Homo sapiens: one gene and its partner. Changing the gene in region 1 together with any one later gene gives a genetic interaction. Each region holds a gene or a part of one and is shown in the gene's direction. Other genes may lie near its edges.

Region 1 (8,085 bases):
TAGTGGTGATAATGCTAATAACAGTGGTAGCAAACACATGAGGTTTGGGATGGACTACATACTGTTCTCAGCGCTTATATTAATACGACCCTCACAGCAACTTTATGAGGCATTGTTTCATCATTCCCATCTTACAGATTGGGAAACCAAGGCATAGAGAGGTTTAGCAACTTCCTGAAGGTCACCCAGCACCAGGGCTGGGATTTGAACCCTGGCTCTCAGGCTCCAGAGACCAGGCTCTTTAATGCAATGCTATGTTGCTGCTCCAATAGTAATAAGCAAATCACTTGTTAGCCACATGAGAGGCACTGGGCTAAGAAAGCCAGAGAGATTCAGGAGGAAAGAGCCCCAGAGAGATCATACAGTAATGGTGGAACCCAAACTTCAATGCAGCTTCCTGACTACAAAAACGTATTCTTTTCACTGAACTATCCTCAGATGAAAAGGTTCCAAGCTCAGGCTATTTGGGGTAAGGAAGGAGTTGGCTGGTTGTATGTGCAGAAGCTTCCAGCAGTACTCAGCTTTATGGGGCAGGTCTGCTTGTGACATCTTCTGTCTAAATCAAGTCAAGCCATTTTTGAACCAGGATGTTGCTATTTAAAGGAATCCCTTTTGCCTTGCCCCTCCCACACCCCCCGGCCAAGACTCGCTCCCTTGTTTACCTTCTGTGTTAATGAGGCAGAGAAGATGGGTCCAAATCATTTCAGGAAGAATCAGTGGTAAAGGCTGGCAGACATGCCTCTGCACGGAGGTGAAGCTGTTATAACCTGCCTGTGAGAGTTAATATGGAGGAAACAGTCCCCGGGGCCTCCGGGAGGCTGGCTTGTCGCCGAGAATACTACCGCAATGTTAGAAACAGAGGTGGATGCAGGATCTTGACAGACATTGGCCTGGGATCTTGCCAACCTCTCGTTTTTACAGCAGACTTGGAAACAACCACTCGCCTCCTCCTAATTTGAGCTGCCTCCGCTAAATTGCTCACTTTGCCAATGACTGTGTGTTTTGCCATCGCCGGCAGGGAAGGTCTGAAGGGGCCATTGATTCATCTGAACCCTGACTTCATGTCTGACTGCAAGGGTAGGATCCAAGCTCATTTGGAAAGAAACAAGACAGAATCCAGTATGGATGAGGAATCAGTTCTTAGTAAAGATTTTTTAAAAACAGAGATTAGAGTCAAATAACTGGGATACATAGTGGAGCATCCACAATGAGGAAGGATAATGGAGCTACCAAAATGTGTGTGTGTGTGTTTGTGTTTGTGTGTGTGAAGGGTATTTTACTTAACAAGCATTTATTGAGTATCTACTCCTTTTTGGGCTAAGTGCAACTTGAGATAAGAAAGATTGATAGGATCTCAGGGCTGAAGGAGTTCAATTTGTAATTCAAAGTATGACTGCATAAGCAAGCCCCATTCCAATTCCTGTTGAGGTCTTAGCATGGAAGTATCCAGCACCCTCATCACACCCCCTGATAGAGGCACTCTCTGCCCTAATGGCAGCCCCCCTGCCTTTTGTTGCTGGTTCTTATTATTAGACGATTTTTTTCTTTGGTTGAGCCAATGAATGTTACTCTCTGCAATTTCCAGTTTTGGTATTCAAGACCTGTCCATTTGCTCCTCCATGTGCCAATTTTACAAATACCTGAAGACAGCTCTTGGGTGCTTCTTTTTCACACAACGTAGAAAGAGAAGCACAACCTTGTAGAATCTAAAAGTCAAGTCCTCTCCTCTTTCTGTTCCCAGTGCATGTGGTAAATGCCTCTCTTTCAGCCCTCAACCCACTGGGTGTAATTACTTTTGTATTCATAGTTAACTAGTATCTACTGGGTAAATCCTTTCTGCCAGACATTGTAGTGGGAAATTTCATAAGATCTTTCGTTCAATCCTGATTCCAATTCCCTGATGTAAAGAGAGTTATACCCTCTTTATAGATGAGAAAATTGAGGCTCAGAAAGAGGAAGTGGTTTCACTTCTTGGTCTGTTACCTTATCTAGATCATGTGGATGCTAATACTGCCCTTGTAAGACAGTTAAGAGCAGTAAATAAGTGAAATGTACATGGCACATAGTAGGTGTGCAATAAATGGGAGCTGTTTTCATTGGAACAGCCCTTCCATGGTTAGCCCATTTCATTTTTGGTGATGATAATGATGATGATATTAATAATATTTGTCTAGTGCAAACTATGTCCAAGACAGTATCAAGAGTTTCACATTTGTCATCTTGACTAATCCCTTCAGTTCAAGAGATTAGTATCATTATGATTCCTGTTTTATAGAAGAGGAGGCCAGAAACAAAGTTACTTACTTGCATACAGTCGCAATAGCCATAAACAGCAGAGCTGAGATTGGAACAGTTCTGTCTGGCTCCTGAGCCCCGACTCCCAATTGCTCCTTCTTCTAACCACATCCCCATAGAGCTCAGACTCTATTGCATCCCTTGCTATCTAAGCACTGGATACCAAGGGCTCAATCAGAATGCTAACTGGGGGCACTGTGGGAAGCTAGGGTGCACCACAACCCTGTAGACATGTCAAGATGTGGTGAATTAATGCATGCAAAGGAAGAGCCCCAAATGAGGTGGTTAGAAAGGGGTCCTAGTGGAAAGAGAACAGATCTGGGAGACCATGGCATTGTCAGATGGACAAGGGAGGGGGGACAATGGCTCTAACAGGAGAAGTAGGTTTTGGATTATGGTAAAGTCACAAAGTCAAGAAAATCCTCAGGGTCGGCGGGGGTTGACTATAGCCTTGGAAGTTCTGGAGCTGGCAATTGTGAATATTTGGGGTAATTAACTTGAATGGTGGCTGTTTCTTTTTCCTCCAACCTCCCTCTCACCCCAGGGAATTCCCACTCTTGTAAACACAATCATCTATTCCAGTTGGCTCCAAGGTAAGAGTGCAATTCCAGGCTCCACAGAGGCTAGCGTGCCCGCCCTGAGATGCTGTTCCTGATGTGGTTCAGGCCTTCCTAACCTCTTATTGTCTCCTTCTGTCTCTGCAGTGATCCGGGCCAAGGTGGTGGGGAAGAAGCTGGTAAAGGAGGGGCCCTTCGGCACGCTGGTCTACACCATCAAGCAGATGAAGGTAGGTAATGTCATCACCCTGGCTCCGGGAAGGTTTTTGGGTTTTTGCCAGAAGAGTCCTGGCTAAGGGAGGCAAAGTGGGTTGGAACTGGGGTGTGTGTCTAAGCACCAGCCAGACCCAGCCCTTCTGCCTGCTGGAGAGGGAGCTGCTAAGGCTGCATAAAGGGATGGGTAGGGAGGGGGCATGGGGCTGCCTTGTCCAAGAGCCCATGCAGGTGGAGTCACTCCAAGGCACTTGTTAGGAAGCTGAGCTCTGGAGCCAGATGGCAGATAGCCTTGTTAGCTCGTAACCATGAGACCTTGGTCAAGTCACTGCCCCTCTCTGGGCTTTAATCTTCCCAATTGTGAAATGAGGGGGTTGGACTAGATCATCTCTATGAACTCTTCTGAGCTCTGACTATCTGGGACTCAACAGTGCTTACAGGTTTCATGCAGCCACTGAGGTTACAGCTTAGGTTTACAGCCCTCAAATCTTTACATGGAAACTGTGCTGATCACAGGAACCTCATCCCAAGGCAGGAACTTCACCTTCTTTCCCTATTTTCCCAGCTGATTGTCTTCTTGCATCCTAGATAGTTAGCAATGTTTGCTAAGCATATTCTTATCATTAAACATATTACTGAGGATATGAACATCATGAAGTACAGGAAGGAGGTATGCCCTTAAGAAAAAGAACACCAGATTTGAAATCTAGAGAACCTGCCTCCTAGTCTCACCTCTACTCCTAAATAGCCTGCTTACCTTGGGCTTGTCCCTTTTCCTGGGCCGCAGTTTTGCCACCTGTTAACAGTGTGGGGTTGGGCTTGGTGCTCCTAACATCCTCTCTAGCTCAGGCATTCTAAGCACCCTGGGATGCGGGCCATGTTACTTGTAAGGAGGAGCGGGTGGTATACAATGGAAGGGTGTACTGGTGATTGCCTTAGCACAGAAGACTGGGGCTTCACCTTGAATAACTCAGCAACTGGTTCATCACCCCATCTTTGTAAGCACCTCTCTACATGCAGAGCTCCCAGCTAGGAGCCAGGGAGGCCGTGAGGGAGATACAGTTTCCATCTTTAGGAACTAGAGTCAGGTTGGGAGAGAAGAGGCAGGTATGTGTGTGACTCATCAGAAGTTCAATGTGGGGTGTGCTGAGGTCCACAGGAACTGTCCAGCCCTTTAACTTATTGCTCATATTTGCATCCCTAGCAATTAGGGTAGGACCTGGCATGCAAAAGTGACTTGGTGAATGCTTATCTGTCTAATACGGGCATGAGGGTGAGACCCCACAGGCCTGGAAACTCCCCAGAGGAGACAAGCCGCAATGTCCAGGTAGAAGGGAGTGGAGGAGTGACGCAGCCCACGGTGGTACCCAACCATCCCCAAGGCCAACCTCCAGGCTTTCTTATTCCTGTGTCCTGAGGCTGGATGTACTAATTTTGTGGAACCTGTTGCTTTGGATTCAATTTTGCAAACATCCACAGCCTTCTGGTTATGTAATGTCCAGAGTCAGCCCTGGCCAGTTGCCCTTGGCTGCCTAAGCTTGGTCATGAGACCAGCTTATGTCTTCAGACAGCCCTGGGGAGAGAAAAATGGGCAGGGGTGGGGAACCAGCAAGAGCAACAACAACGCAAAAAGCCCACTTTGCAACCTCTGGCAGACAGCGCGGGAATGCCAAAGCATATTAGACCAAAGCAGAGGTTCAGAAAACACACGAACCTGCCTGGTCTGGAACAATCCTCATTACGAGACACTCGGTGGTCAGCAGAGAGCTGAGAGGGAAATAGCTGGGAGGCAGCAGTTCCTAAGCCTGCCTGGTTTCCTTCCTACCATCAGGGCCTGGAGACCAGGGTGACCAGAGGCCCTTCCTGTGGACATAATGTCCCATTCCCCCTTGCTGGTGTCAGACCAGCCACGGGTGGTTGTTTAGAGACCAAACAACACTTGCTAGCCTATCAGCATCAGACACTCCCACTCCCAGGCTGGTGGGCTTAGAAGACACACTCCCACTCCCAGACTGGTGGGCTTAGGCTTTCGGTTCACCATCCTTCGCCTGAGCTCATGAATCATGGTGCTGGGAATTAGATGTAGGATCCCTCGTCTTACTTCTGACAGAGGCGCAAAGGGGAAATGACTTACTCAGAGTCAAGCATTTAACTAAGGGCAGATCTGATCCCCAAGCTGAGGCATCGGAATTTCTTCCCAATCCTGTGTTCTTTATATGACTCCCAAATCTCCCTGCCATCTTAATCATCAGTCACCATCTCATGCCTTTCATTCACTCTGACCCTCCATAGAGGGTATCATGATCCATAGAACTGGTCAGTGCCCTTCTATCCAGAGACACCACTGGAATCTGCTTGTCTCTAGGTACCAGCCTGCAAGTCAGACAAGATACAGGCTAGAAGTAATAGTCCGTCCATCCATCCTCTCGTGCTTCCTTCCCACCCTCTCTCTGTGCTTAGTACTGTACTATGAACTGGGGATACAAAGATAACACTGCTTATAATTATGATAAGACTTGGCATCAGTTAACATTTACTGAGCAATTGCTTAGTGCCAGGCATTCTGCTAGGTCTTTGCATAGATCAGTACTTATACTAACACTGTAAAATAGATAACACCTTGTCCTCTGTTTGACAGGTGAGGCAACTGAGACCTGGGAGGTCATATAACTGTTAAGATTATATGGCCACAAAGTGGCAAACCTGAGCAAAACTACAGGGTCTTTGCCTATAAGGAGATAATACAGTATGGAGCAGCAGGCTGATTCATCATTCCTACCCACTTTGGGGTATATAAATGCCCACTCCATATGTTTTTAGTTCCCAGGGAACAAAAAGAGGTCAGTTTGGGTTTGTTGGTTTATCATCCAGCAGTGTAGGGCTGGACTTGTAATATCCTGCAAAGGGTGTATCAGAAAAATCTTTGTAGGAGGGAAGAGAGAGAGGCCAGAGAGGCAAGCCTGCATGAGTTTTGGCACTGGTCCCTGGGAGACTTTGTTCTAGCAGATTAGACAGTCTACCCTAGAGAGTCAGAAGGGGTGAGCAAGGGCTTCCTTAGAGCAGGACTAAAGGAACTTGGAGAACCTGAGACTCCGAGCCGCCCTGTCTGACCTCTCTCTTCTCTCACTGATGGAAGGCAGGCAGACCTTCTCCCGTCTGCTAACTCTGGAGCCTCTGACCCATCTCTCAGGAACACTTCAGTACACAGAGACCTGCGATATGTGTGTGTGTGTGAGGGAGCAGGGTGTTAGAATGTTGAGAGAGCTTATTGCAATCCCAAACTTGGAAATTAGCTGGGCTGTGGGGTGAAGGTGAAAGTTTCCAGAACTGGCTGCTCTAAGCTGTGGGGACCTTATCTCCCATCAGGACCATGAGAAACCGATCCACTGTGCCAGGAGTTATTGTTTATGTAGCGGAGACATGCTCTCCAGCTGGCTGCAGGGGACAGAACGTGGGGGACATTATGTCCCAGCTGGTCCTGGGAGGGTCCCATGGGGAGACCCGCTGGTCATGTGCTTTGCATGTCCTGACTGTAGGCAGAGCAGACCTCCAGGGACTTCCTTCCTTTAGTGGTTTGTCTAACCAAATGAGCAATAGCAGGGTCTCGCCTTTGAAGCTCTAGCTGGAAGCATCTTTGACCCCCAGCCCACAGGGAACCATTCTTCTTGCAATGCCCGTGGTTCTTCCTGCCTTAGGACTCTCATCCAGCCCTCTGCAGAGACTGGCTCCATTTCTACATTCTCTGCCTGTCCTGCTAGACAAATTGCTGTATAGAGAAAGATCATGGCCGTGATAGCTCGGTCGGTCTGTAAATAAGAATTTGTGGGTTTAAATGAGTCCGTGATGTACACCAGCATCCAGAACAGTGTTGATCTTTGGTAGGCATGCAAGACATAGTTGGAATCATTGAGGCAACTCATGCTGTCAATGTAGAGTGAAGGCCAGACATTTCATAAGAAATATGCAAATGTCCCCAGACTCAGAAACTTCTTTTTTACTTTATTTGTCCCTTCACTCCAAGGGAAGCTAACATCTTGGAACTTTGTGTAGATGCTACCAAGAAGAAGAAGAGGGGCCCAGAGGCATGCAGAACCCAGCTGAAAAAGAACAACCCACTTATGTCTGAAGTTCTAAACCAGCTTTAACTACTCTTGTTAAGAGCTGAGGAAGGGACTTAGGAGAAAGGGGACCAAACTCATTCCTCCTCTCCTTACGAATTTCAGTATAACTTGTTCTAAGCTAACTTTTATTGAATGTTGTGGGCTGACTGCTATTCTAAGTCATTTGCTTCTCTCAAACACCCTAAGAAGTGCTTTGACCCATTTTACAGATGAAGAAACTGAGACCCAAAGAGGTTAAGTAACTTTCCAAGTGGCGAACACAGGTGGCAGAGAAGATTGAAGATTCAAACTCTGGCTGTCAGCCTCCAAAACCTGAATTTACCACTGATCTCCATGGCATTGGTTTGGATTAGATTACCTTTAACATCTTTTCCAACTCTGAGATTCTAGGATTCTCTGATGTCAGGACATTATAAACCTATTATAACTCTCCTAAATTTGTCAAACCAATTCTAGATCTCTATGATTACAGACATGATACTTTTAGAATCAATATTTAAATCAAGGTAGGATTATTACACAGAAAACACAACTGAGTAGAATCTACCTTTGCCATGTTGTTCTTTTCAGAATTGACCCTAAAACACAGCGCTATGTTTGTCAGAGCCAGTCATTTGTAATGTGTCAGAATTTCGACTCTAGGCAAGTGCTAGGAGCTAAAATGCAGGTTCCTTCAAACTTCCAAGTAGCTGCGGTGCCAAGCTGATTTCGATGAGTTGAGTTCTTACTGAGCAGTTCAAATGACCAGACTGTAACCAGGGGCTTCATTCTCTCACCCACGAAGCACTAGGGCAGTCAAGGGGAAAGACTGACGCAGAAGGAATGAGGTTCCCATGGGCTGGGTCCAAAAGACCTAGAGCGAGTGCTTAGTTGAAACATTTGCCAAAACCTCAAGGAAC
Region 2 (9,069 bases), on another chromosome or scaffold:
GCAAGGACAAAAAACCAAACACTGCACGTTCTCACTCATAGGTGGGAATTGAACAATGAGAACACATGGACACAGGAAGGGGAACATCACACTCTGGGGACTGTTGTGGGGTGGGGGGATGGGGGAGGGATAGCATTAGGAGATATACCTAATGCTAAATGACGAGTTAATGGGTTCAGCACACCAGCATGGCACATGTATACATATGTAACTAACCTGCACATTGTGCACATGTACCCTAAAACTTAAAGTATAATAATAATAATAATAATAATAAAAAGAAGTGATAAAAATGTTTTGGAATTATATAGTGGTGATAGCTGCACAACTTCATGAATATACTAAATATATTTTTAAAACGGTGCATTTCATATGTAAATTATATCTCAGTTTAAAAAAACAATTAAAAGAAGAATAATTTCAGTTGTGTGATCAGTATAAAATATAACCAATAAAAAATAGGAGTGTTACTGCTGAAACAACATGCAATAAATTAATTGTAAAGAAAGCTGTCAACTTCTAGATACCCAAGTATGAGCTAGTTTCTTTGTGGGTGTATTGCAAATTATTTACCGTAAAAATTCTGCTTTCCCGTTGTACATTTTACAAATCCTTATTGAAAACCACGAATTCAAATATCTGTAGGGTAAATATCTAAAAGCTCAAGCACTCTCATAATTCCTAGTGATAAACTTCCTGTTTTCATTTCCTTGGAGTAAAAACCTCAAGATCCACCCAGAACACCACCCCAAACTTCCTGTCATCTTGTTCTATCTTCTTTTTTTTTCAAATTTTATTATTATTATACTTTAAGTTTCAGGATACATGTGCACAACGTTGTTTTGCAGCTCAAAAGCAAAAATATCCAAAATTGTACAACTCTTTTTTGTTTTTGTATCCTTTTAGGAGCTTGAAAAGTGGTTGGGGTAAATGACTCCCTTAAACAAAGCTAAATAACCATTTGCTCTGAATTGATGGTCAGTTTTGGAGAGATGATTATTTTGCCTCTTTCCCTGTCTCTTTGGTGAGGGATTGTTCTCTCTAATCTCCAGCTTTGAGAATTTGTCCAATCAATCAAAGCAGATCTTGAATTACTTCTAGGCCACCTGGACAGGGACTTAATTATAGCTTCATCAATAATAGTAATATTTCAAATAATGTATCAACAGAATGGGGTGACTACCAGAAAAACAGGGTTCAGAGAGGCAAAACTGTTGAGAGAATGACTTGGAGGGCTCATCAATCTGGCAACCCGAGTGATAATCCCTGACAGAAATTTCCCGAAACTAAAGCAAAATAGGTTCCCAGTTACCAGCTTTCCTGATCTGATTGCAAAGTTACCAAGCCAGATTTACCTTGTTTCCTAATATTGGGATGGAGATGAAGAGGGTGCTTCAGATAAGGAACGCAATCTTTGTGGTCACTGGAAAGTAGTATATCTCTATTGCAAAGTAATAAATTAACAATCAAAGTACTATATCAGTTTTGAGATAATTTGATTGACATGAGCCATCACTGAGAGCCTGGGTATTCTGAGAAAGTTCAATATCTAGACCTAAAGCTCAAGGACCAAACTCTAGCTTAACAATTTGTTGATCCACTGCCCTATGAGAGTTCTAACCTGACAACATCTCCCCAAAACATCCCCCCAAAACATCCCCATCGCCTAAGAGTGGTGTTTAAATATTTCCAAGACAGCTTGTTGGTTTGGCCAATTTAGTCAATTGGCAATTTTGGATAATTTAGTCAAGCTATTTAATTTAGTCATATCAGTGGGAGAAATGTCAAATCATTTAGCTGATATTTGGAATGTAAACAAAAATATAGATAATTTTCATTTAAAATTTTTTTCCACCAGTTGGGTTATATAGCATTTGAGGATAGAACTAGGGTGCCTTTTGCAAGATTCTAGTCTGAACATGGTGCTCAGGCCTGAAGCTGTCTTTGGGGCAAAGGGAAATTAGAACTCTCCCTTCTCCTTATGTTCTTGGGACCAGATTCAGCTGGAAGCAGCTGGTCTCAAGAATGTACTGAGTCTGACATCCATTCATCTCACTACATCAGTTTCACCTTAACTTACTTAATAGTCCTCTGTGTCACTTTTCATGTGATGCGTAGACAAAGAGGTAGTTTGATGAAAATAATCACTCATGTTGGGCATTTCACTGAATTTTAAGCTGGTTTCTACAAAATGGCCAATCTGATTGTTATTTCTGAATAAAAGACCTTATTTTTTTTTCCATTTGCTTTAATTGTGACATTTCACAGACAGGCACAAAAATAATATGCAAAGATTCATCAATAATGGGCAATCTTCTTAACTACCCTCCTTTTAGAGACCCCCAGGTTAGGAAAAGTCCAGTGACAATTAAAGCAAGGCTACTCTATGGGTAAGTGAATTAAAGAAAAGTTGGTATAAAGTATGTACGTGGGTACATGGGTATGAATGGTGTGTGTGTGTGTGTGTGTGTGTGTGTTGAAGTTGAGAGAAGTGGCAATGATATTGGCACTCAGTGTGGTGGCTGGGGTTGGGGAAAGTTAAAATGACTCTGAGAGACCTAGATTAAAAAGGAAGACCCATATATATTAAAATCATTCCGTAATCTGTACCTCTAATCTTTACCTCTATAACCAGGGCACTATGTCTAGAATTTTTACGCATTTTTGCATTTATGTATTTCTTTTCTCCTTTGAAGTTTCATCTGTGTGTGTGGGTGGAGGTGAGGCGGCAAATAAAATTTGTTCTGAACTCTGTAACCTTCTAGCAGAGGAAGAATTTCTCTCAAGAACATTTACTTTTTTAGCTTAGTCCTTTAAAATTTACTGTTAAGTAATCTCACAATAAACAACAGGTATTCATTAGAAAAAAATTAATTTAATGTGATTTACTATTTAATTCTGCTAGCTCAGCTACACTTGTCCTGCAGAGCTGCATAATTTATTCAAATGGCCTGAAACTTTTTAAGTAAGTCTACCAGCAGAAAAATTATTCCCTACTCCCAGGAGAATGAACTTTTTGTGTTGTACTGCTTCCCAGGACTGACACTTATTTGACTCTCAAGTGTATTTACATTGTTGGCTTAACTGGGAGTTCTTTGCTGAATCAATAATATACAGTATTTCTTCAAGTGGTGTCAATATTATTGCTATTCTTTTTATAAACTTTTTGTTAATTCTCTGCAGTTACAAAATTTTTCTTTGACTTGTGAAAAAAATTACTCCTAAGATTATGAAGACGCAGAGTAAATGGCCCTTTAATCTTCTGGGAAATATGTACCTCTTTAAACTTTATTTATGTCAGAACTTACTGTAATGAAGGACAAAAGCTCTAGACAAGGTCCCCTGTTCCTTGTGGGTGTTCAAGGCTAGGTCTTCCGGAGACAAGCCTGTAGTTTGTTCTCATAATTTTATAGCTCACCTCCTGGCTGTTTCTTTGCAAGGGGCCTAAGAGGGTACAAGAAAAAGAGCAGGGTGAGAATCTGACCCATTGTGACCACTCGGGAGGCCCTGGCCTGGAAACTTCCCCTTTATGTGGCAAAAACAAACATTTGAAATGGAGGGAGAAACCAGGTTTAAACAATGAGTGAAAACAGTTTCCATCTCAGCTTTCCTGCTGATAAACATATGTGCCCCCTCATTTGTTTCTGAAACATAAGTTTTCCATCATTTTAACAGAGCCTCAGCCTCAACTGAATCTGTCCAGAGCATAGGAAACAAATATTTTGAGATTTAGTAAAATGGTGCATACATATATTAGGGGCATTTTGACAATGTTCAAACTGTTTACCAAACAAACTTTATGATGGCCTATGCAAACCTTTGAATCCTACTGTATTTTTCACATAACGATGACTTCTCACTGATCTCATCTGCCTGTGTGCTACAGTATTGACTTTAATATTAATGGAGAAACAGACAGATATCAAAAGCCATGTGATTTGTCTCATGCCATTTGCAATTTTGTCTTCTGTCATCAACACTGACTTCTCCTTCCTTGTTCTGCTGAACTCCATACTTAGGTGCCCAGCTACTTCCTCAGAGCCTGCCCTCATTCTTTACCTGTGGCCTGCAGCATGGACAGGTGCATTCTTGCTGCTTATCTGAAAAATATGATCCACAGAAATAACTTGAATCTTTTTGCCCATTTAAAATGTGCTCTAGGTTCTCTGGTTCTCTGTACTAACTATAGAAAGCCATCTAGTCACAAGTTTCTCCTTCCTGTGGTCTCCATTTGGGCAATACAATTAAGAAAAATACGTTTCCCCACATAACAATTCTTCCAATTCTTTTCCCCTTCTTTGATGCTTTTATGATAGATTATGAATGGTCATCAGTGATTTTCTGTAAATGCCACGTTTCCTTTTTGCCAAGACAAAGAGTGAGACTAAGGGACCATCTAGTGCTTCCTCTTGTGGTATAGAGGCTAAACAGCGTGAGTTCTGATATTAGTTTCCTTTGATTTAAATGCAAGTGTCTTCATTTAATAGCTGTATGATCTCAGAAAAGTTATTAAACTCTATGAGTCCTAGTTTCCTGATTTGTAAAGTGGGGGCTAATATGAATAGCTTGTAATAGCACCTACCATATGCTAGGCATGATTTTAGGCACTTTAAACATATTAGCTCATTTAATTTTCCATTAGCTTATTTAAAATTCCTACTCTACGATGTAGGTAATTTATATCATTCTCCTTTCTCAGATGAGAAACTGAGACATGAAGAAGTAAAGTAACTTGGCCAAGGTCAGAATTAGTAAGTGGTAGAGCTGGGTTTGTAAAGCCAGGTAGTTGGATCCCAGAGGCTATTTACTAACCAGTGTGCTATATTGCCTCTCTATTAAATTATTGATGATAAATAACTCATCACAGTGTTCGGCACATAACATTTATTGTCAGCTAGTATTATCACTACCATCACCTGTTCTTATCTTTCTTCATTTTGTCACTCTTGCTTCTGCTGGATTGGTTGTGTAGTTTATTGCCCCCACTGCCACAAGAGACAGCAGCAACAGTGATCTAGGTTGAAATAGCTAGCGAATCCCTCTTCACTTTATGTGCTTTGTATTTAAACCACAAATATGACAGAGACCTATGAAAGGAGACTAAACCTCTTTTTGGTCGTGTAAAAATTATATTCCTGCAATCTCCAACCCTCCAGCAACAAGCCAACAAAAACTGCGCAAAGCAAGGGAGAAATTTTAGAAGTGGTAGACTTCAAGTAAAATTCCTACCATTCTTTAATAAACAGGGGTAAAAATTTCAGAAAGTAATGAAGGTTGTGAAAGCTGATGAACAAAGACTTTGCTACTATAATAAATTTCCTAGTCTCTACTCACTAATTTCTATTAGAATGCCAATATCAGGAAAAAAGGAAGAGAAAATTCTGTAAATAATTACTATATTTTTCTCCTACCAAGTAAGCCACTGACTTCAAAATTCTCTAGCACATTTGTGGAAACTTCATTTTTTTTGTTTGAGATTTATTTGAATGAGCTGTTATGATTGGAGACAGTGAGAATTTCAGATTAATGTTTTGCAGACAAAAAAAAACCTCTCTGGAAAGCTGGCAAGGGTTCATAAGTCAGCCCTAGAATTATGTAGGTTGAAGGCTCCCAGTGGACAGACCAAACATATAAGAAGGAAACCAGAGATCTGGTGCTATTACGTCCCAGCGTCTGAGAGAACGAGTAAGCACAGAATTCAAAGCATTCTGCAGCCTGAATTTTGAAGGTAAGTATGAACAATTTATATATAATTTACTTGGAAAGTAGAACATACATTAAATGAAAATATTTTTTATGGATGAACTTCTGTTTTTCCTGTGTTTTAACACTGTATTTTGCAAAACTCCTGAATTATTTAGCTGCTGTTTCTCTTACAGGAGTGTGTTTAGGCACTAAGCAAGCTGATTTATGATAACTGCTTTAAACTTCAACAACCAGTAAGTCTTCAAGTGGAATTTATTATTGATTCTTTTATGTTAATTTGTTAGGTCAAAAGAAAAATCTTTAGAGCAAAATAAAAGTTTTGCTCTTTATTAGGAGGTTCTTTAGATATTACACTTTTAATTGGGTAGCTTATTTGCATGTATTTTGAAACTATCTAAAGTAAATAGTGTTTCCTTTGTATGCTTATCTTTAGCTAATGTGTTTTTTTTTTTGGTTTTAAAATAATGCTTCTAGTGAAAAAAATCACAAAAACCTCAACACTGTAACGTTTGAGAGCAACGGCTATTCAGTTCGGTTAAACCGAAAAGAGAGAAAAAGAAAAATGATAAGACTATATCATGATTAATCATTGATGTTCATTTCTCATTTCACTGAGCAATCTAAACTACTTCTACTTGAACCTAACATAGGTTTGGCTGTTTTTTTCTTTATCTGATTTAATTGAAAATGGATTGTTTAGATATTAAATAGACCAAAATTAGATATCTATATCTAAAACTAATATTCTCTATTAAAAGGAGAAGACTTAGAAATATAAATATATTTCATAACTTCTTCTTAACTATATTATTATTGTGAAAACAATAGAAAAGTAAAACTAAAGGAATTATTTTTAATTATTAAAGACAAACCATGATTCCCCATCACAATATGTTCCTTTGGCATATTCTCTTTTAGTTTTTTATATACTTATTTTTTCCATTGCTTATGTTACTTATATTTTCCACAGCTGTAGTGATTTGTATGTAATTAGTTACTTAAATAGAGCATTTCTCTATGCAATAGCAAGCAGCAGTGTGGTTTCTAGAAAGTATACAAACAGAGATATATGCTCAAGTGTTTTTTGAAAGATTAACTTTTCTTACCTCTGGGTTTCTTATTTGTTTCACACATTTCCTGCCCTGACTAATCTTTTGAAATATTAATTTTCTTTAAATCTTTCAAAAACATCATAGAAAAGATGGGCAAAAGGTAGTTTTATTCAGAACTTTGAATCTCTGAAATGTCTTTTTTCTACTATCAGGAAAATTATTTCTCCTTTTTCAAGAGGTAAAATGAATTCTTGTTTTACAAGCCATGGCTCTGTTTCTTAATGTTTTCTATAATCACTCACTTTTTTTTTGCTTTTGACAAACATTCAAAATGCTAATGATTCAAGGATGTCCTCAGCTCTGTATGTGTTCTAAGAGTTCTATGTTTTTTCTCCACAGAAGGCATAAGAACTAGGAGCTGCTGACATTTCAATATGAAGGGCAACTCCACCCTTGCCACTACTAGCAAAAACATTACCAGCGGTCTTCACTTCGGGCTTGTGAACATCTCTGGCAACAATGAGTCTACCTTGAACTGTTCACAGAAACCATCAGATAAGCATTTAGATGCAATTCCTATTCTTTACTACATTATATTTGTAATTGGATTTCTGGTCAATATTGTCGTGGTTACACTGTTTTGTTGTCAAAAGGGTCCTAAAAAGGTTTCTAGCATATACATCTTCAACCTCGCTGTGGCTGATTTACTCCTTTTGGCTACTCTTCCTCTATGGGCAACCTATTATTCTTATAGATATGACTGGCTCTTTGGACCTGTGATGTGCAAAGTTTTTGGTTCTTTTCTTACCCTGAACATGTTTGCAAGCATTTTTTTTATCACCTGCATGAGTGTTGATAGGTACCAATCTGTCATCTACCCCTTTCTGTCTCAAAGAAGAAATCCCTGGCAAGCATCTTATATAGTTCCCCTTGTTTGGTGTATGGCCTGTTTGTCCTCATTGCCAACATTTTATTTTCGAGACGTCAGAACCATTGAATACTTAGGAGTGAATGCTTGCATTATGGCTTTCCCACCTGAGAAATATGCCCAATGGTCAGCTGGGATTGCCTTAATGAAAAATATCCTTGGTTTTATTATCCCTTTAATATTCATAGCAACATGCTATTTTGGAATTAGAAAACACTTACTGAAGACGAATAGCTATGGGAAGAACAGGATAACCCGTGACCAAGTCCTGAAGATGGCAGCTGCTGTTGTTCTGGCCTTCATCATTTGCTGGCTTCCCTTCCATGTTCTGACCTTCCTGGATGCTCTGGCCTGGATGGGTGTCATTAATAGCTGCGAAGTTATAGCAGTCATTGACCTGGCACTTCCTTTTGCCATCCTCTTGGGATTCACCAACAGCTGCGTTAATCCGTTTCTGTATTGTTTTGTTGGAAACCGGTTCCAACAGAAGCTCCGCAGTGTGTTTAGGGTTCCAATTACTTGGCTCCAAGGGAAAAGAGAGAGTATGTCTTGCCGGAAAAGCAGTTCTCTTAGAGAAATGGAGACCTTTGTGTCTTAAACGTGAGAGCAAAATGCATGTAATCAACATGGCTACTTGCTTTGAGGCTCACCAGAATTATTTTTAAGTGGTTTTAATAAAATAATAAAATTTCCCCTAATCTTTTCTGAATCTTCTGAAACCAAATGTAACTATGTTTTATCGTCCAGTGACTTTCAGGAATTGCCCATTGTTTTTCTGATATGTTTGTACAAGATTGTCATTAGTGAGACATATTTACAACCTAGAAGTAACTGGTGATATATCTCAAATTGTAATTAATAATAGATTGTGAATAATGATTTGGGGATTCAGATTTCTCTTTGAAACATGCTTGTGTTTCTTAGTGGGGTTTTATATCCATTTTTATCAGGATTTCCTCTTGAACCAGAACCAGTCTTTCAACTCATTGCATCATTTACAAGACAACATTGTAAGAGAGATGAGCACTTCTAAGTTGAGTATATTATAATAGATTAGTACTGGATTATTCAGGCTTTAGGCATATGCTTCTTTAAAAAAGCTATAAATTATATTCCTCTTGCATTTCACTTGAGTGGAGGTTTATAGTTAATCTATAACTACATATTGAATAGGGCTAGGAATATAGATTAAATCATACTCCTATGCTTTAGCTTATTTTTACAGTTATAGAAAGCAAGATGTACTATAACATAGAATTGCAATCTATAATATTTGTGTGTTCACTAAACTCTGAATAAGCACTTTTTAAAAAACTTTCTACTCATTTTAATGATTGTTTAAAGGTTTCTATTTTCTCTGATACTTTTTTGAAATCAGTAAAC

The links.
Region 2: of TIMP3 (region 1) and AGTR2, extra expression of one is lethal in a mutant of the other (dosage lethality), as found in Homo sapiens cells (one study listed by BioGRID).

What each region holds. Positions count from the first base shown.
Region 1 is NC_000022.11:32,846,453-32,854,537, forward strand, and holds part of TIMP3 (metalloproteinase inhibitor 3 precursor), read left to right. Parts: intron 1-2,999; coding exon 3,000-3,082; intron 3,083-8,085.
Region 2 is NC_000023.11:116,165,089-116,174,157, forward strand, and holds the start of AGTR2 (type-2 angiotensin II receptor), read left to right. Parts: upstream 1-5,655; 5' UTR 5,656-5,728; intron 5,729-5,879; 5' UTR 5,880-5,939; intron 5,940-7,157; 5' UTR 7,158-7,192; coding exon 7,193-8,284; 3' UTR 8,285-9,069. UniProt on the Homo sapiens protein: Receptor for angiotensin II, a vasoconstricting peptide. Signals primarily via a non-canonical G-protein- and beta-arrestin independent pathways. Cooperates with MTUS1 to inhibit ERK2 activation and cell proliferation.